Regions from separate parts of the Homo sapiens genome. Here region 2 is linked to region 1. Evidence: fine-mapped expression QTL. Tissue or cell type: whole blood. Region 1 holds a variant in brackets; the other region holds the start of a gene. All regions are shown on one strand. Distances are between the middles of the regions.

What was found. PIP is the estimated chance that this variant, and not a neighbour inherited with it, causes the effect. A credible set is the group of variants that fine-mapping cannot tell apart.
Region 2: SLC20A2 starts here. The variant in region 1 is the best candidate, but not a certain one, in a credible set for the expression of SLC20A2 in whole blood (TOPMed, PIP 0.82).

Annotation. Positions count from the first base shown.
Region 1 is chr8:42,733,311-42,744,032 of GRCh38, reverse strand. It overlaps CHRNB3 (cholinergic receptor nicotinic beta 3 subunit), which reads right to left. Exons shown (of 6, transcript NM_000749.5): 6 at 6,626-7,549. The coding sequence ends at 7,415. Among named protein-coding and RNA genes, the nearest start is that of CHRNA6, 30 kb to the left of the region's middle. RefSeq lists enhancers at 1,849-1,918, 2,089-2,278. The variant T/C (reference allele first, on the strand shown) is at 7,034.
Region 2 is chr8:42,496,578-42,507,387 of GRCh38, reverse strand. It overlaps SLC20A2 (solute carrier family 20 member 2), which reads left to right and starts at 6,157. Exons shown (of 11, transcript NM_001257180.2): 1 at 6,157-6,357. RefSeq lists an enhancer at 4,051-5,250.

The DNA.
Region 1 (10,722 bases):
GGCTGACTCTCCTCTTGATGCCCAGAGCTGAGACTGTCCTTGAGCATTCAGACGAGCATGTCTAATTCCACAGCAGGCCGGGCTGCCCTGTCCCATGGCCATCAACACTGCCTGGAGGGGTGACAGTCCACATCTGGGCACGGATTGCTGCTCTCACCTAGTTTTCCCAAACCCAAGATTATGTCCATGAGCCAGTGACATAGTGTTACTTTTATGGTCACTGGTACTTGATTGACATACTGAACAGAAAGTTTTAATACAAAGAAGAAATACATGTCAGGTTAAACATATATGGTAATCACTGTGTTAATTAAATGAATTAATTTAAGTAGATAACAGTAGGTGCTTCAGAGAAAGAATTTTGACACAACCGAAAGGTCCATTCCAACATAAGAATGTTACTCTCTGGAAATTACTATGTTCCAATGTTGGCTGGCTATACACCATCTCCAAAGGGACCAAGATCATAGCTAAGAGTTTTTGTAACCTTGCTGTGTGTTGTGGCCTCAGGCTAGACCACAAGATTTACCACTGGATACAGTGGAGAGATCAGACTTGCATTACCTTAATCTAGGGATTAATCTTAACTCTAATGATCAGATAGCCAAGTAGCCTCCCTCCTCACTATGGTATAATATGAACACCATGTTATCATCTATAGCACATCCCTAACAAAAAGATTGAGCTGGGTGCGGTAGCTCATGCCTGTAATCCCAGCTCTTTGAGAGGCTGAGGGGGGAGGACTGCTTCAGGCCAGGAGTTCAAGATCAGCTGGCCAATATGGGGAAACCCCATATCTACTCAAAATACAAAAATTAGCCTGGCGTGGTGGCACAAGCCTATAATCCCAGCTACTCAAGAGACTGAGGCAGGAGAATTGCTTGAACCTGGGAGGTGGAGGTTTCAGTGAGCCGAGATCATGCCACTGCACTGCAGCCTGGTGACAGAGTGAGACTCTGTCCCAGGGGAAATATGTTTAGGGATACAGATGTAACTTTCAGTTTACAGGAAAATACAGGAGACAAAGGAATAAGGTAAATGCCACCAGAAGCAAGCAACCAGACAAACTCCAAATAGGGAGATATACTTGGGGAAAACGGATCTGGTCCTTTCAACAAATCAGTGCCAAGAAAGAGATTAAAATAGATTTAAGATCACACCTGTAATCCCAGCACTTTGGGAGGCTGAGGTGGGCAGATCACAAGGTCAGGAGATCGAGACCATCCTGGCTAACACAGTGAAACCCCATCTCTACTAAAAATACAAAAACAAAATTAGCTGGGCGTGGTGGTAGGTGCCTGTAGTCCCAGCTACTCGGGAGGCTGAGGCGGGAGAATAGCATGAACCCGGGAGGCAAAGCTTGCAGTGAGCTAAGATCGTGCCAGCCTGGGCGACAGAGCAAGACTCCGTCTCAAAAAAAAAAAAAAAAAAGATTTAACAGGCATAACAAATGGTCTTGGGTCAAATCCTATTTGAGACAAGCTAAATATCAAATTGGGATATTTTTGAGGCAGGGAACTTGAATGTAGAATTACTAATTTTGCTAAGTATGATAATAGTATTTTGGAGATTGTTTTAATGTAAGAAAATGTTTTTCTAAGGAGAATACTGAAAATTACACACACAGAGCTAGAAATATTTGGAGGGGCTGAGCAAGAGTACACATTTGTCCCCATTTTAGACAACTTCATCCAAAATTCCTGGTATCTGGTTTAATTAATCAACAAATATCAAGTAAGCCTTGACTGTGGACTACGCTCTATTAGATATTGTTGGGGGTATGATGGAGAATATACTGGTATAGCTAAGAAAATGAGGTTCACTTAATAATAGAAATGATATTCTAAACCATACAGCATACACTGGAAATGCCACTGGCTTTCCAACACAGGGAGCCCAGTGGGGGCCATGTGTTCTATGAAGGCTTCAGGAGGAGCAGTGGCGGGGGTGTGTGAGCAGAAATCTGAAGGCTGCACATAATGTGGACAGCTCTCTGTGGCCCCCCGTGTGTGTGCCTGCACACGTGTGTCCCACACTCACACGTGTTGAGGGAAGAGAGAGATCCTCTCACATTGTTTTATACTCAGTACCTGTTTTAAAAAAAAAACAACAAGGAAGTAAAACCAAAGACAGGCAGCCTGGCGCCAGGCCTGAAACTAGGCCTGGGCCTGCCTGGCCTAAACCCAGTAGTTAAAAATCAACTCATAATTTAGAAACCGATGTTATTCATAGATTCCAGACATTGTATAGAAGAACGCTGTGAAACTCCCTGCCCTGTTCTGTTTCTCTCTGACCACCAGTGCATGCAGCCCCTGTCACGTACCCCTTGCTTGCTCAAATCAATCATGACCCTTTCACGTGAAATCTTTAGTGTTGTGAGCCTTTAAAAGGGACAGAAATTGTGCACTCGGGGAGCTTGGATTTTAAGGCAGTAGCTTGCCGATGCTCCCAGCTGAATAAAGCCTTTGCTTCTACATCTCGGTGTCTGAGAGGTTTTGTCTGCGGCTCATCCTGCTGCAGTGTGATACAGAGAGAAATCGTTCTTGCAACTTCCACTTCTTGGATTAATTGGCAGATTTTGCACATAGATTTTTCTTGCTATACATTTGGAATTAAAATTTCTTTGCCTTAGAGTGATCATTTGTGGTTACTTCCTTAGGATTATTATGTTATATAAATACTTGTTCTTTTCTGTGTTTGAAGCTGTTATTATCTCCCACCTTGGCTACATGTACACATGTGAAGGCTTAATCTTTTCTGAATCTGTGTCTGATCAGTAAGAAGCTTCCTGTAGAAGGTGTTTCATGCTGGTATTTCCTTTTTTTTTTTCCTTTAACTTTGTTTTGTTTTTGCTTTAGACATGAGGGCTCACTCTGCCGCTCCTGGCTGGAGTGCAGCAGCACAATCATAGGTCACTGAAACTTTCAACTCCTGGGCTCAAGTGAACCTCCTGTTTCAGCCTTCCATGTGGCTGGAATTACAGGCATGAGCCACCCCCCCGGCTCATACTGGCATTTTTTCAAACTTTGAAACTGAATTCATATCTAAACACATTTTTCTGAAATTAGTATAATCATTGTGAAAATAAATAAAACTTAAAAGCTGTTGGAAACCCCCAAACGCTTTAAGCTTTGAGAGAGATGTGGCTGTGATCTGAGTTATATGGCATGTTGTTGTCACGTCTGTTTCTTAGATTATAGCTTAACTCTCTTTCTCATTGTCCTTGTTCTGTCATTAACTAGGAAAGACCAGACCTCCCTCTTCCAAACACTGATCATTGTGATAGATTAACTGCCTCCTTTGTTATCCTGTACCTAACTCAGGCCAGATGGTGTCCCAAACGGGGACCCCATGACAGTTCCATCTTCAGTGTAGAATGTTAAATATACCTTTTCCAAAAGAAAAGAACCACCTTGACTAATGAGAACATTGTGACTATGCATTAAGCCTTATATAGAAAGAGGCTAAAATTCTGTTAAACTTCCCTAAGCTTTGTCTATAAAAGTGATCCCAAATTTCTAACTTTGGAACGCTGACTTCCATTCTTTGGAATCTGTGGTTCCTGGGAGGGTTGTCCTCAAACTTTGCACTTGAATAAACTGCTTAAACTAGATTCTGACCCTTTTGATTATTTTAGATTGACATCATTTACCTAGCAAACTAAGAGTTAAAGTTAAGTGGTGTGTTAAAGTCAATAGTATTCTCAATAAAAAGGAGAGGAATAGTGGCTTGCCCTTTGAATCCACAATCCCATCAATAATTTAAGGCAAAGAATCCTTGATTTTCATCACAATGTATTCCTGCAAATCCCATCCTGAAGTACTGATAAAGCAGGTTCAATTTTCCCAAAGGAACAAAGTTACACTGAGTTGTGTGGTTTAAAAACTGTGAAAGCTCCAGTAAAATTATCCAAAATATAGAAATTTAGAGCAGGGGAGAGCTTCAAAGGTCATGCATGAATCATAACTCCTATAAACCAAAACTAAAATTCTAAGGCCTCCCAACCATCTGAATGGTCCCCTCCTTTTGGCCAGGGCAGCCCAAAATTAATCTGAAAAACCTATTCAGGCCATGATGGAAGTGGGGCTCAGACATGCCTCACTATACCCTCCTCCTTTTTGGAATTCAGGAAAAGCCAACCAGAATTAACATCAACACTGATCAGAAGTCTGATAAGGAACATTTGCAATCTCTTCTCTCTGAAGCCTGCTACTTGGAGGCTTCATCTGCATGATAAAACCTTGATCTCCACAACCCCTCATTGTCAACCAGACACTCCTTTCTATTGATAATAACTATTTCAACCAATTGCTAATCAGAAAATTTTAAAATCTACCTATGACTTGGAAACCCCCTCCAACCCCCCTGCTTTGAGTTGTCCTGCCCTTCCAGATAGAACCATTGTAGACCGGGCGCGGTGGCTCACGACTGTAATTCCAGCACTTTGGGAGGCCAAGGTGGGCAGATCACGAGGTCAGGAGATTGAGACCATCCTGGCTAACACGGTGAAACCCCATCTCTACTAAAAATACAAAAAATTAGCTGGGCATGCTGGCAGGCGCCTGTAGTCCCAGCTACTACGGAGGCTGAGGCAGGAGAATGGCGTGAACCCGGGAGGCGGAGCTTGCAGTGAGCCGAGATGGAGCCACTGCACTCCAGCCTGGGTGACAGAGCGAGACTTCATCTCAAAAAAAAAAAAAAAAAAAAAAGAACCACTGTAAACCTTACATGTATTTGATTGATGTCTCCTGTCTCCCTAATGTATAAAACTAGGCTGTGCCCTGACCACCTTAGGCACATGTCCTCAGGATCTCCTGAGGGCTGTGTCACAGGTCATGATCACTCATATTTGGCTCAGAATACATCTCCTCAAATATTTTGCAGAGTTTGACTCTTTTCGTCGATACTTCTTATTACTGACTGGGAAACTGAAACCCTAGAGGGACCTATCGAGTGAGGAATAATAATCAACCCCAGCATGCTTCCCATCTAGAGCACGGGATATTATACAATAATGTTTTCAAAGCTCCGAGGGAAAATGATTTTGAACCAGAATTCCACACCCAGCCAATCCATTATTTAAATGTGAAGGCAAAATAAATTACAATTTCAGAAAAGCAAGGGTTCAAGAAGGTTACCACACTCAAATATTTCCTGAAAGAATTACTTGAAGACATGCTCTTCTGAAATAATGGAAGAAATGAAGCAGGAAAAGAGGAATGCTTAAGATAAAAAACAGTGATGAACAAATAAATGAAATTGTTTGTCATGTGGTTATGGACAAAATGTGTGGTGAATACATGGTTCTTAGGGAAAGGAACACATAATATAAAAATTAATCATGTAGAACTAAAATTCTGGATGATTTAAAGAAAATGTGGAAAGTGATAAAAGTGAAATGAAGGTGAGGGGAAGTGAGGGTCCTAAAGAAATTATTTTGTGTAGAAAGTGGCAGCCACAAACACTAATTCTCAACATTGATTTAAAAAGTTGAATGTTTATTAATAAATTAATAGAAGCGGACATGTAACTTTCAAGCCATTAAAGGCAAAGAAGGAATGGACAAACTACAAACTCGGCCAAGGCTGAAAAAGTGGGGGAAAAGGTGAAGGGAAAAAGGTGAAGGAACAAGAGAATGTTATACAGAAAGCACAAACTAAATGGCATTAATAAGACGAAATACATCAGTGGTAACAATATGTGAAGGTGTTTCATGCTTAGATTTTTTTTTTTTTAAATGGAATCTTGTTCTGTTGCCTAGGCTGGAGTGCAGTGACGCAATCTCGGCTCATTGCAAGCTCTGCCTCCCGGGTTCAAGTGATTCTCCTGCCTCAGCCTCTCAAGTAGATGGGAGTATAGGCATGGACCTGGCTAATTTTTTGTATTTTTAGTAGAGATGGGGTTTCACTGTGTTAGCCAGGATGGTCTCGATCTCCTGACCTTGCGATCCATCCACCTTGGCCTCCCAAAGTGCTGGGATTACAGGCGTGAGCCACTACGCCCAGCCACTTAGATTTTTTTTTAAGAGACTGCGTCTTGCTCTGTCGCCCAGGCTGGAGTGCAGTGGAGCAATCATGGCTCACTGCAGCCTCCAACTACTGGGTTCAAGTGATCCTCCCATTTCAGCCTCCTGAGTAACTGAGACTGTAGGCACACATCACTAAAATTGTTAAAATTTTAATTTTTTAAATTTTTTGTAGAGACAGGGTCTTGCTGTAGAGAGCAGGCTGGTCTCAAACTCCTGGCCTCAAGCAATCCTCCTGATTTGACCTCCCAAAGTGCTAGGATTATGGGTGTGAGCCACTCCACCCAGCCTAGATTGCAAACTGCTTGCAAGAGCCATGCCTAAAAGTACTCCAGAAAGGGATTTGGATTTATAACTGGGCAGAGAGAAAAATTGCTTTAAGCTAAAATTCAGGAAGGATTGGGCAGAGGCAGCAATTTTGGAGGGCAAGAAGAACCTGAGCAGACTCCCCTCGGAGTCTTAGAGAAGGAATGATGGTGGGTGGGGGTGAAGCCCACCCAGGTGCCAGGAGACAGGGAAACAGCAGGTGGAGCCTAGGGGATAGTGTTGGTATGGATCCGATTAGACGAGGTGACATCAAAAACCATTAATCAGAGAATGTTCTGTACACTAGTTTACTAGGAAAAGATAATGGGTATTAATGAATCCACTTCTGGTAGCAAAGGGCTTTGTTTCTATTGTGAGTTATTTTGGTATGCATGACCTTAAAGGAAGTCACAGCTCACAGTGGGCTCCAGTTTCACCATCTGAAAGCCTTATCATGCTGGGAATAAACCATGAATAACACCTGCTTCGGTAGGCCAGGCAACTTGGAATCTGTGTTATTGTTAAGTGTGCAGTGCCAGCTATCCTGCCAGTGTAATCCCCAAACCCTTGTTGAGATTTGCCTGGCCCATTGCTAACAAGCATAACACGGCCCCAGTTTGCAGCTCAGACAAAACCACCAAGGAGGCCAGTGCAGGGTGGGAGATCCAGGCTCTGCCCACACAGATAGCTCGACACCGAGAC[T/C]TCCTTAATTCCAGGTGAATCCCCCCTCCCCCACCACCGAGGCCTGCTGCTTCTAGGAGGTGTTCCTCCACCAAGTAGCAACAGCTTTTTGTGCACTCTGGCCACATGTGAGCTCAAGCCTGGACCTATGATCCCTCCCTGAATGTCTGGGAAAGCCAAGGCAGGGGTCTGAGGAGGCTCCACTTTCTTTAAAAGCAGCTCACTCTCATGGCAACCACAAATGAGCACATTTACCAGAGTTTCTCCCATGAGGAGATGTTCCATTTCCACAAAGACAACGCATTCGGGGTTCGTAGAACAAGCACATGCATTTGGATTCTGTCTGTGTGATAGCCAGATGTCAGGTCTAAGGTGTAATTTAGTCTTATGTCTTTTAAATTCCTAATGGTAACTATGTAGCCACATCTTCAAAGCAGGGGTAAAAATCAGAACCGAGCCTGTTACTGACACTATCAGAAAGAGCCACAGGAAGATTCGGTCAAGAACTTGAGCTACAAATTTCCAGTCTTGTACTACCTGCAAAAGAGAAAAAGATGCCTTTCACTCAAGACACTGAGCAACTGTTCTGTATTCATCTCAAGGGATTAAAAAAGAGTAACATTCAGATTTATAGCATTTACTTAAGTTTTCAAAATGCATCTAATGTCCCAACCACACTACAGGCTCAGGTTCTTTCAGGGACTTCGCTAATTGTGCCCAAAAGAAGCAGCTTGGAACACTCTCATCAGCACTGAAGAAGGAAAATAGAAACAATAGAATTCTGTATGCATATGTCAACATTCCTGATCAGAATAGGAAAAGTCTGATTTTTACATGAATAAAGAGCCACTATAGGCCAGGTGCGGTGGCTCACGCCTGTAATCCCAGCACTTTGGGAGGCCTGGGGGTGGGGGGATCACCTGAGGTCAGGAGTTCGAGACGAGCTGGCCAACATGGTGAAACTCCCTCTCTACTAAAAATACAAAAATTAGCTGGGCATGGTGGCGGGCACCTGTAATCTCAGCTACTTGGGAGGCTGAGGCAGGAGAATTGCTTGAACCCAGGAGACAGAGCATATCTTAGGAAGCCAGTATATCTTACTAGGGTGCTTCCTGATACACGTATGAAAAGAATCACAAGTTTATAATTTAAGAGTTTTTGTGGCCAAATGTCACAGGCTTTCTTTTCTTCCACTCCACCTGTGCTGCAGCTCCAGAAGGAAGGGTGCTGCCAAGGAGAAGAACCGACCAGGACAAGACAGGAATTCATGAAGGAGACAAGAAACTGAGTCCCCTTTATTAGGAAGGGGAGGTGCAGAGAGTGGGCAACAGGTCCATAAACACAAAGTCAAGGCACGACTGGCTGGGGAAGTCTGAAAGGAAGGGGAGTCCTCATCCCTCTAGAGTAAATAAATGTCCTCCGTCTTGGGGAAAAAAAAGAAATCTTTGTATTAGGTTTTTGTTTTGTTTTGTTTTGTTTTGCTTTTTTGAGACATAGTCTCACTCTGCCACCCAGGCTGCAGTGGTGCAATCTTGGCTCACTGCAACCTCCACCTCCTGGGTTTAAGTGGTTCTCCTGCCTCAGCCTCCCGAGTAACTGGGATTACAGGCACTCGTCACCATGCCCAGCTAATTTTTGTATTTTTAGTAGAGACAGGGTTTCAACGTGTTAGCCAGGCTGGTCTCGAGCTGCTGACCTCAGGTGATCCACCCGCCTCGGCCTCCCAAAGTTCTAGGATTACAGGCGTGAGCCACCACACCCGGCCTGTATTAGTGTTTTTTTGTTTGTTTGTTTGTTTTTTGAGACGGAGTCTTGCTCTGTCGCCCAGGCTGGAGTGCAGTGGCATGATCTTGGCTCACTGCAAGCTCCGTCTCCCGGGTTCACACCATTCTCCTGCCTCAGCCTCCCGAGTAGCTGGGACTACAGGCGCCGGCCACCACGCCCGGCTAATTTTTTGTATTTTTTGTAGAGACAGGGTTTCACCCTGTTAGCCAGGATGGTCTCCGTCTCCTGACCTCGTGATCCGCCCGCCTCGGCCTCCCAAAGTGCTGGGATTACAGGCGTGAGCTACCGCGCCTGGCCCTGTATTAGTGTTTTTAAAAGATGTTAAGAAACAAACAAAAAAATTCTCCCAACTTGACAGCTGAATGTTTCTTGTCTAGCAGCAGTCACTTTTCTAGTGCTTTTAAAAACAATTTTAAGTGGATGAAAAACATGACAGATTGTTAAGAGAGAGGACATATGAGGCAGTGTCTGTGAACGCAAGAGAAAATGTAGAAGGATATTTCTAAAAAAAATTCTTGGCCAGGTGCAGTGGCTCAGGCCTGTAATCCCAGCACTTTGGGAGGCCGAGGTGGGCGGATCACGAGGTCAGGAAATCGACACCATCCTGGTTAACACAGTGAAACCCTGTCTCTACTAAAAACACAAAAAATTGGCCAGGCGTGGTGGCGGGTGCCTGTAGTCCCAGCTACTCGGGAGGCTGAGGCTAGAGAATGGCACGAACCCGGAAGGTGGAGCTTGCAGTGAGCTGAGATCGAGCTATTGCACTACAGCCTCGGTGACAGAGCGAGACTCCATCTCAAAAAAAAAAAAAAAAATTCTTTCATCAGTTTGTTTACGGGATCAGGCTCTTGGCACTAATTTTCATCAATTTTAGAGTAAAATATTTGAACCCTATAAATTGAAGTTCTCATATAAATTGAAAATATGTAACTTGCTTTAGGCAACAGATCACTTTTTTTTTTTTTTTTTTTTTTTTGAGATGGAGTCTCGCTCTGTCGCCAGGCTGGAGTGGAGTGCAGTGGTGCACTCTCAGCTCACTGCAACCTCTGCCTCCCAGGTTTAAGTGATTCTCCTGCCTCAGCCTCCCAAGTAGCTGGGACTACAGGCTCCCACCACCACGCCTGGCTAATTTTTGTATTTTTAGTAGAGATCAGGTTTCACCACGTTGGCCAGGATGGTCTTGATCTGTTGACCTCGTGATCCACTCACCTTGGCCTCCCAAAGTGCTGGGATTACAGGCATGAGCCACCGTGCCTGGCCCAACAGATCACTTTTTACGCTTAATATCTGCACGTCAAATAATATTTTCATTCCACTGGGGAAGGACTGTTTAGAAGAATGGGCTGGTCACGGTGGCTCATGCCTGTAATCCCAGCACTTTGGGAGGCTGAGGCAGTGGATCACCCGAGGTCAGGAGTTCGAGACCATTCTGGCCAACATGGCAAAACCCCATCTCTAATGAAAATTCAAGAAAAATTAGCCAGGTGTGGTGGTGTGTACCTGTAGTCCCAGCTACTTGGGAGGCTGAGACAGCAGAATCGCTTGAACCCAGCAGGCGGAGGTTGCAGTAAGCTGAGATCACACCACCGCACTCCAACCTGGGTGACAGCAAGACTCCTCTCAAAAAAAAAAAAAAAAAAAAAGAAGAAGGATGAGGATGATAATTAGAAAGGCGAGAATTCACACTTGTTGACTGCTTATACAACGGAGCTGAGCCCCTGTGTGCTGGGTACACTGTGCATGTTTGTATTTTATGTCATTTAATCCTCACACAAACTTTTCAAGGTAGGATTCAGAAAACTGAGGCTCAGGTTAAGTAACTTGTCTTAAGTCATTCAGATTATGATCTGAACCCAGGACTGTTTTCAGTCTGAAATTCACACTCTTCCCACGCTACTTCTTTTCTTTCTCCTTCTCTTTTATCT
Region 2 (10,810 bases), 240 kb after region 1:
TTTTTTTTTAGCTGAAGAGGATACCAGTTTCTTCTGTGTAGAGTTAGAGCTCTCTGTTTGTATGTATGTGAACTGAGTCCGTTTCTGAAGTGTGAAGACTGCATCGCTGTGGATCACACTGGTGTAGCCCTCCTGAGCATGCAGCCTTTTTGGAGGAATGTGTGTTAGTCAGCTTTTGCTGCATAACAAACCACCTGATACTAGTGGCTCAAAAAAACAAACATTTCTTTCTGTACCTCACAGTTCTGTAGGGCACCGGAGTGGTTCTGACTTGAGCAAGCCTGGCTGGACTTTGCAGTCAGCTGGCAGCTGGCTGGCTGTGTGGTTTACGATGGCCTGACCCACCCATCAGGTGCTCAGCGGGCTGACCAGTGGCAGGGACTCAGCAGTGATGGTGCATCCCCACTCCATGTGGCCTTCTCATTTGTAGTAGGCAAGCCAGGGCGGGCATTTCGAAGTTGCAAGAGAGGGTGAGCCCCCATGCACCAGCACTTTCCAGGGCCCAGCATTATGTTTGCTGTTGTCCTACTGGCCAAGCCCAGAGTCAGTGCAGGAAGGGACTCCCTAGGGTAAGGAAGGAATAGGGGGACTTTACAGCAGCCATCTGCCCAGACACATGATTCGCCTGTGTTCTTCAGTCAGTGACCCTGAATCCTGTGCTAACCTCTGGCTGGGGACATGAGACCATATCACGGAGAAAATTAAACAGGCTGGCGCAGCTACAGAGTTTTCCAAAGGAGTTTACAAACCCTGGTTTTCCTGAAATACTTAACGACCATTTGAAATTCCTTTCAACATTTTATTTTTTGAAGAAGCTTCATGCTATAAAAACAGGGAGCCTTTAATCCGCACTCAGTAAATATCCCAAATTGCCCTTCAGCAAGTACCATACTGCTGCTAGACCTGCTGTGAGCATAATGGCCCCGGCCGTTTATGAGACTCTTTGTGTGCCTGTGCTAGATACATCTCACTTCCTTCCAACACCAACCCTTGATGTCAGCAACATTATCCCCATTTTACAGGCGAGGAAGCCAAGTCACAGAGGTGAGCTCAATTGCTCGAGGTCAGACAGCTAGTAGGTCGTGGGGTACACTTTGAACCCAGGTCTTTCTGAGTCCACAGCTACAATCCAAAGAATTCCTAACGTGGGCCAGGCACAGTGGTTCACACCTATTATCCCAGTACTTCGGGAGGCCAAGGTGGATGGATGCCTGAGGTCAGGAGTTTGAGACCAGCCTGGCCAACATGGCGAAACCCCGTCTCTACTAAAAATACAAAAATCAGCTGGTCGTGGTGGCACACACCTATAATCCCAGCTGCTCAGGAGGCTGAGGCAGGAGAATCCTTGAACACAGGAGGCGGACGTTGCAGTGAGCCGAGATTGCACTACTGTGACAGAGACTTTGTCTCAAAATAAATAAATAAAATACAGAGAATTCTTAACGAGTTGAAGAGTTTTTTCTTCAATGTTCATTTTTTGATGGCTTTTTTTTTTCTTTGAGATAGAGTCTCACTCTGTCATCCAGGCTGGAGTGGTGGCGTGATCTCAGCTCACTGCAACCCCCGCCTCCCAGGTTCAACTGATTCTCATGCCTCAGCCTCCCAAGTAGCTGGGACTACAGGTATGTGTGACCGTGCCCGGCTAAGTTTTTTGTAGAGACGGGGTTTCGCTACATTAGCCAGGCTGGTCTCAAACTCCTGACCTCAAGTGATCCTCCTGCCTCAACCTTAAATAGTTGGATCAAATAACCAGGTTCAATTTGATGATAAATAGCTCAGAATAGAAACTTCACTGCTATTTCCAGATGTCATTTTAAAATATTTTAGAATACCTGATTTCTCCATGACCTATCCATGCTTTTCTAAGGTTCCAAACTAAAATGCAGAATCTTGAGTTATTCCAGAACATAGATTTAAAATTTGATCAGAAAATAACCTTCATTTAAGAAATGAGGGGTCAGGCATGGTGGCTCACGCCTGTAATCCCAGCACTTTGGGAGGCCGAGTTGGGTGGATTGCTTGAGCCCAGCCTATTTATTTACTATCCTATTATGAGCTTGAGACCAGCCAGGGCAACATAGCAAAACTCCATCTCTACAAAAAATATAAAAATTAGCCAGGTGTGGTGGTGCACACCTATAGTCCCAGCTACTTGGGAGGCTAAGGTGGGAGGATCGCTTGAGCCTGGGAGGTGGAGGTTGCAGTGAACCAAGATTGTGTCACTGCACTCCAGGCTGGGCGACAGAGTGAGACATCTTCTCAATTAAAAAAAAAAAAAGGTTGGGGGGGTATTGCGTCCCTCTTGTGTGGCACCCTCCTTCCTCTCCCCGCTGTAGCCATAGCACATTGCACATAAACTGCGTCTTCATACTTACCCAAGTATTGTATCTGCCTGGGTGAGTCTGTTCCTGTCACTAAAATGTGAACTCCCTGGACATAGAGACCTTGTCTTTCATCTCTGTATCTGTCCCCAGTACCTGGCATAGTAACTGGAACATGCCTTTTTTTTTTTTTTTTTTTTTTTTTTTTTTTTTTGAGACGGAGTCTTGCTTTGTTGCCCAGGCTGGTGTGATCTTGGCAGTGGCATGATCTTGGCTCACTGCAGCCTCTGCCTCCCAAGTTCAAGTGGATTCTCCTGCCTCAGTCTCCTGAGTAGCTGGGACTACAGGCGTGCGCCACCATGCCTGGCTAATTTTTTTTGTATTTTTAGTAGAGACAGGGTTTCAGCATGTTGGTCAGGCTGGTCTTGAACTCCTGACCTCGTGATCCACCCACCTCGGCCTCCCACAGTGCTGGGATTACAGGCGTGAGCCACCACGCCTGGCCACCAATTTTTATTATATGATTTTATAACTAAAATTTCATGTCTAGCAATGAAATTCTTCTTCTCTCTTTTTTGTTTATTTATCTTCCTTTTAGTCTTTCTTTCTCCTCGGATCTTTCCCCTTCTATCTGTCTCAGTTCCTTCATTTTCCTTAGCTCTCCATTTCTCCCAGCATCTGCTACTAGTCTAGTCTCCTGGCTCTTAACCTTTTTGAGACACAGACTCCTTTAATAAAGTGATGAAGAAAGTTATCTCCCCAGAAGAATACACACAGAGAACACAGAATATTTTGCATATTATTTCAAAGGTAAAGAATGCCAAGAAGCCAGGGGCAGTAGTTCATGCCTGTGATCCCAGTGCTTTGGGAGGCTGAGGTGGAAGAATCACTTGAGCCCAGGAGTTCGAGGCTGGCCTGGGCAACATGGTGAGACCTCCTCTCTACAAAAAAATTTTAAAATTAGCCAGGTGTGCTGGCACGTGCCTGTAGTCCCAGCTACTCAGGAGGCTGAGGTGGGTGGATTGCTTGAGCTCAGGAGGTGAAGGCTGCAGTGAGCCATGATTGTGCCACTGCACTTCAGCCTGGGTGACAGAATGAGACCCTAGCTCTAAAAAACAAAGGATGCCAAGTATCTAAACTTTGAGCTCCTTGAGGACAAAAACTAGGCGTTTTTCATCCTATATGCCCAGTATTTAGTTGATGTTTCTTGAGTGTATATAAGTGTGCACATGCCCAGAAACATGTAAATATTAGTACATGTTGTAGAAAAGCTGTTGTCAGGAAGATATTTGTACACTCTGGCTTTCCACTATGATAGTCACCAGGCACATGTGGGTACTGAGCACTGGAAATGTGGATTGTCCAGATTGGAATGTACTAATTGTAAAATACGCACTGGATTGCACAGGCTTGGGGCAGTACAAACAAAAGAATGAAGATATCTCATTAATAGTTTTTATGATTATTACACATTAAAATGATCATATCTTGGATATATTGAGTTAAAATATATTATTAAATTAATTTTACCTCTTTATTGTTACTTTTCTAAAAGCAGCTACTAGAAAATTTTAAATTATACATGTAACTGCTCATAGAAGGTTGGTATCTGGGTTCATTCATTAGTGGACATTCATAAACATAGTAATTTTCTTTAATTTCATGGATTCGTTGAACTAAAGATCCCATAGGTCACCGCCTTCCCTGTCCCTCCTCTACCACCAAAAATTAATGAGAACAAATGGGAAGAATTTACTCTGCTTTTCAAGGTACTCTGATACAGATTTTTATCTACTGTCATAAGTATACCTAGAACAAAAGCACTGTTGACTCAAGTAGTTTCACTAATGAAAAGGAAGCAGCAGAATGACTAATGTAAATTGGAGGAGACTCTTTTATTTGGAATGCTTTGGTTCTTCCACTGTGGAACAGGTGTGGCTGCTGTTGAAACAGCAGAGTCATACTAGGCATATCTGACATGTGAGGAACCGGAGCATTGCTCAGGGGCCCCTGCCTTCCAATGAATGGATGTAGGATCCATCATACATCAGATTGCTCCTTTCCAATACAAACTCTGATGCAGAAATGCACTTGGTGTATTTGCTTTTTCTTACTTTCTGGTTTAGGGCAGAAATAATATTTTGGCTTAGAGACTTTTGTCCTGAACTATGACATAATAGGATGAGAATATCGTGTCAAAAATAGCCTTACAAGGTCCTTTTTGGCATTAAGACTTCTGGAGTGAGTTTGCAGTGGATTATTGAGAATAATTCTGTTCATTAGCAGCTAGCCATCTTTGATGAGTGCTGACTTCTCTCCTTTCAGCACAGAGCAGGAAATGCCTGCCTCCCATGACTCTGGGTTGGAGTGAAGGGGAATGCATACCAGCCACCCTCTTGCAGAGGTGGGGCAGGTGCTGGCACAGAGCCTCAGGTTAGGCCGAGGGGATGCAATCTCAGATCAGCAGCCAGCAGTGTTTGTAAACAACAGGAGGGAGATTGTGCTGGTGATGTCCAACTCACACCAATGAAGATCAACCGGTTTGTGCTTTGGGCAGCAGGCTGCAGATGGACAGTGCCTCCTGAGGGCATCGCCATGTTTTAGGGATCCATGTTGCAGGATACCTGTCTGCAAGAGAGAGTCAAGGAGGGCTTTTTAAGCCCCTGGGGTTCAGGCCTGGCATCTGGGTGTTAAGTAGAGTGAATCTCCTGAAGTCCAAACTAACATATGACATTTTAAAATGAGGAAAACAAATGGCTCTGAAAAGGTCTATAGGATTATAGGTAAGTGGTTAATACGGAAGATGTTATAAAGGTCTCAGGAGGAGATGGGGTGATCCAGGGTTGGTTGAAGTCGTTGAAATGGAATTACCCTGTCTTTTACCTGTCTGTGGGAAAAAAAAAAAAAGAGGAAAATGACATCTCCCAAAGATGCTTGGAGATTTGATTGATGTTTGTAAAGTGCTTTGATATCTTTCATAGAGTGTTCAATAAGAGCAAAATATGTCATCAGAACTTAGTCTAAAGCAAACTAGTCCCAAACCGTCTTGAGTAGATACTAAGCGGTTTTGTGTCTTTGTTATAAGTTGTACTTATATTTTCGAGAGAAAGTTTTTCATGTTCTGATTTTCTTTTAAGTGTCAGCTGTATGTTTGGGGTCTTTACCTGTTAACTTGAGTTCCAACATGCTTTGTAGATGGTCAGTCACCTACAGAGGACAATTTTTCTAGCCAAGGAGTTAAATCCACCTTAAAATGCTTCTTGCCAAGGACAATGCCTTTGCAAATATTTGAGATGTTTATTCTCAGTTGTGATTTATTACTGAATCTGTGTCTTCATAGCGACTCCTTGGGAGGTGCAGGAGGAGGCAGAGCCAGAAAGCAAGTCCCTGCAATCAGTTCATTATAGAGAAAGAAAAAGCTTTTATTTCAGGATTCTGGTGGATAGACTTACTGATATGTATATTCTGTGTCTATTTAATTTCACGTAGTGCTGCATCTAATCACGCTGTTTAAATAATCGGACAGAATGTCCTTTTGCTTTGCTTTTGCTTGTGAAGAGCACACAGCACTGCCACCTTGTTGCCAAAGTTTGGTCTGATTTGAATGTGCTTAAAAATCAAGTGAATGCCTGTTGGGAAAAAGCTTACTCCTTCTCTTTGTCAGTACTTGCAAAAACAACTTAAAAGAAGTTAGTATTATTGGACTGAATTCAGTAATTAGCATAATCATGATGCTATGTATTGTTCACCAGGGCACGCCCCTTGGCCGCATTTCCCATTAAGAGGACACCGATGTTGTCCTAGTGAATAAATCCCGGCACACATGATGCAAATCAGCGTGTTCCTGCCTGCTGCTTGGCTGCAGTTAATTTTAGCCGGGGTTAGTTCTATGAGTTGTAAAAGTAGAAGTTAGCAAGCTGAAATGTGACTTCTCGGCCTAATGTGGTAGGATATCTATTTTAGACTTCAGATTGTGTTTGTGATCAGGAGAGCAGTCTTCTGAAGAATTGTGGCTCAGTTTTCTTGGAAACTACTTGTAAGTACTGGGTGGAATTTTAAGACTTCTCTTTGTTCTTTTCTCCTTAAATCTTCCTAATGTTACCGTCATAGTAATGTTTATCTCTTGGGAAAACTGGAAGCTTTCAGGTTGGTACGTTAGAGAAAGCTAAGAGAGGTGGCAAAAGGTTTTTCTTTAAATGTCTCCTACTGCAATAAATCTGCCTTATTCAATTTGCCCAAGAAAAAGTTTTCGATTCTTACTTATTTTTGCAAAAGCAATCTGTAGATTATTATTTTATGTTAAAATATTTGATTAATGGATATGGTTTCTGTAAATACAGAAACATTGTATTGTGTCATTGAGCTTTGTTTTCTACTATGGTAACCTAATTCTTGAGAAAAAAATGTTGAAAGTTAATTCCTGTTATACTCTGTGCTACAAGTTTATTTTGTAGAAATAATGGAGTGTCAAATGTAATTTTCTTGAATGTATAGATGGACAGTTTTTTATCCTTTTAAGGGGGATTTTGTGCTTAAAAAATAAACCCATATATGCCTAAAGAGAAGCACTTTAAAAAATTAATTTAGGAAGAAGGTTTTAGAGAATAATTTAAAGCATCCTCTTTTAGACTGAGTTAGTTATCAAAAGTAACCAAAGGCCATGGGATTCTGTAACCTTAACTGCAGTTCATCTAACACATTATTACCAACTTAAATTTGTACTGAAGAAAACAAAAGATTTTGATATTGAATATTTTAAATTAAATTTGAATCATCTTGCTTATTTAGAAGTGTGTTTTCAATGTGGACTGACCTCAAGCCAAACAGTTTGCTTACAGCAGAGAACCAGGCAGGAATTTCTTTATCAATTAGCAAGTAAATGTATCAGCTTTAGGAATATTGTTATTAATAAAACAGTTCTCCTAGGCGATAGGATAGGTGCTCACCAGCTATCTATGCCTGTCATCTCTAGAGCAAGGAAGGAGGCAGGTCCACAGTTAGTATTGTGAAAGCCATTTTCCCATTTTGAAAAGATTTAGTTAAAGACTTCTTTGTTATTATGTATTGTCTGATTTTAAATGCAAATGACATAAAGTGTCAACAATGAAAGGAAATACTTCAGTGTTCCATTTAGTAGGAAAAGAGTGTAAGAAAGGAAAGTAGTACTGAGTTCTTGGGCTATTTTTAGAAAGAAACTTACTTCATACTTAGTTTTTATTGAGCTGAAGAGAAATTTGCTGCCCAGATGAATTATAATGATAACAGAAGCCTCTAATGTCATCTTCAGCAGTAAAAGGGGTTTTGCTCCGGTAATCCTTCATAATATATATTTTTATCCAAAAAATTCTGACTTATTGCTATTACTTCTTACTTCTAATTGTTAATAAGGCACCATCAGAATCTCAGTGGAGCATTTTTAAAGGTACACTGTAGTTGGGTATTAGTTTTCACACCAGTATTCACTTGACCTATTGTAGTTCTTAGTCCTGCAAAAGAGAAAAGCTGATTCGAATTTATCCATTGTTTAATTTCACAGACGTTTCTGTAGGTTTTTCTACTACTAGGAAGCATGTGCTTTATGATGAGTTGCTAAAATGCGCATAAACACTTGAGGAGTGTTCGTTTTAATGATTTACGTGCTGTGAGAGAGTGGCAGCGGTGAGTGAGAGCGGAGAAGGTTTTCATTATATAAGTGTTAGTGCCGGAATTCCTCGTGTTTGCCGGTGCTGCGATTCTCTTCGCTGCTTCTACCCCGTGTGCCTGGTGAAATGATGCTGGCTGTGACTGGTTATGACCTTGGGCGACAAATCATGATGAGCTCTATGCAGAGTCACACACTGGGGGTCCAGGTGCGGAGAAACAGGGCAGCTTTGTGGCCGCAGGAGGAGTCCAGGAGCCGAGCCCGCCTGCCCTTGCCCTGCTGTTCCCACGCCGCAGGTGACCGCACGTCTCCCCTGCAGTCCTGTTGGAGCCACTCTGTCCAGCTGCCCGTGCTCTCATCCTACTCCTCCACGTCTTAAAATAGTTACAGACCCAGAGGCTCTGACAGAATCGCTGCCGGTTGCAGATTTATTTCACTGTTACTTTCTGCCTAGAGGGATAGCCTTCTGCTCAGAAGCTTTGAGGGGTTTCTCAGGGACGCAGAGAGGAACCTTTTCTCTGGGACCTCTTCCCTCACATGAGGTTTTAATGGGTCTCTTGCCTGCATGGCTAAATGGGAACTGCGCTATGTAACAGGTTGCCTTTCGGCTTGGAGCCCGGATGCTCAGTGATCACATCCCTAGAATGTTCTCTCTCTAAAGGAAATCTTGTCGGAAGAGGCTGTGTTATGTGAGTTCCAGCTGTTCATCTAAAGTGGAAGGAGCAGTGAGCAGGAGGGATGCCTTCAGCTTCCGTCCGTCTTAAAAACAAGTGTAACATAATGGGATATGGCCCTCAGGAGGAAGGCTGATTTCTCGGGCATACGGGGTACTGCTGTCATTATTTAGCATGTATTAAGCACCCCACAGCACATGCGGTGCACAAGGAAAGCATAGTTCCAACCCACATGCTACAACAAGGCAGGACACAGAAACTGGGCCCCCTGACATTCAGTAACTACACTGGCAGAAAAAAAAATGTGAAAATGAAGAAAAGGGAAACAAGATGAGTGGGGTGGGTTGAGGATACTTCAGCATTCAGCTCCTCTGAGCTTTTGCCAAAGACGATTAGGACAGACAGCTGTGCCACCTGGGCTGTGCCTTCCCTTTCTCCTCCATAGCTGGGAAGTGATGGGGACAAGTGACAAGACTGACCCCAGAAGCCTTGCCCCCCACTCTCAGTCCTCTGTTGCAATCCTCCTACAAAGAGGAGAAGCTTCACAGTTTCACTTGCACCTAAAACTATTATTATTATGTGGAGGGGGTAAACTTGTTATAAAGTGCAATAAATATCAAAGCATCTTTCTCCATAAAATGATATTTAGATAGAAATCTGGAGTTCCAGATTCTCCCTTCCTGAACTGGTTTGCAATTCAACAAGTTACTTAACCCTGCACTGGTTTAGGATATTGAGTCAACTGTAATATTAGTTAGGGAAATGCCTTCAGCTTCTCAGAGGAAAGGCATTATGAAGGTCTACTGAGCATTATTGCAGCTTGTAAAGGAGTTAGAAGCACATGAATCAGAAGAAGGGCTGATAGGAAGGCTTGGGTACTGGGGAGTAATAACATGAGCGGCCTGCGTGGTTCTGTGAGTCTGTGAGTCCCTCCCCCCGTGCCCAACCTCAGCCAGTCTCTAAGGTTCTGGGTCTAGTTCATGGCTCCACAACAAAGAGACTTGGCTCCACAAAGAACCTCAAAAAAAAAAAAAAAACCAATTGAGGGTTGGAAAATGATACCTATGATAAGAGGGTAGGGAACTTCTATTATTTAGCCTGGAAGAGGAAACAAATGACCGGGAGACTCTTGAATTGTTCTTCAAGTATATGTGTGTCTCAGTGGCAAAGAATGGTGACCCACTGGTATCTATTTCCATCTAGAATAAAAGGGTCAGGTCCAGCAAGGGTTGGGCTGGAACAGAGGTGCCGACAGTGGGGACCCTGTTTCTTCAGCGTCAGCACCGCCTGGAAACATGTGAGAAATGCAGATTCTCAGGCCCCACCCAGGCCCTGCTGAATCAGAAAACATGGGGTAGGGCCAGCAGCCTGTGTTTAAAAAATCTCCCAAGTGATTCTGGTGCACGTTGACATTTGAGGTCTGCTGGATGAGATGCAAAGATGGAGGGTATTATAAAATGGGCAATCTGGATGCCAAAAAATGTAACCCTTTTTCCTGAAGTCATCTAAACATGGGATTATATTTGTTTGCAGTGTTTTCAATGTACTCTCTAAAGTCAGGAGATAAATGACCTCTCAAAGTCCCTTCCAGCCCTGACTTTGCTCTGGATTTCCTTTTGTCACTTAGAGAAGATTAATAATTAACCAGGAAAATTTTGCAATTACTTTTCTGAGCTAAGACAGTGTTCCTCTCAAATGAGGCTCACCTGAGATAATGTGAGAATAATATTGTGTTAGCATATGGATCTACTGTATTTTATCAGTGTTACCAGACTCTCCTCCCCATGTGACCTCACAGCCACCTGCAGGGGATCTGGGCAGAGGTAGCGTGTAGCCCATATGGGGGGTGGGGAGCTTATTGTTGGCTCATGAGCACTTTACATCACAGACTGTGGCCAGGTTGGTCCGTCCCTGTCTTCACACAGCCCATTTCAGAAGAGAGGGGGCTGCAAGGAAAGTTGGACCCTACCCACTACACCCTAGGAGCAGGAAGCAACATAGAAGGCCCTAACGAATCCAAGCACAGTGGAATGTATTATCTGTGTGTCAGCTCTCACTAGAGATAGAGGAGAGGGACACATTTTATCACAACATTTTTGTATCTACAACAAATAGCCCAGGGGCACACATAGGATGGACTTAATACAAATAAATTCTAATTCCATTGGAATGGC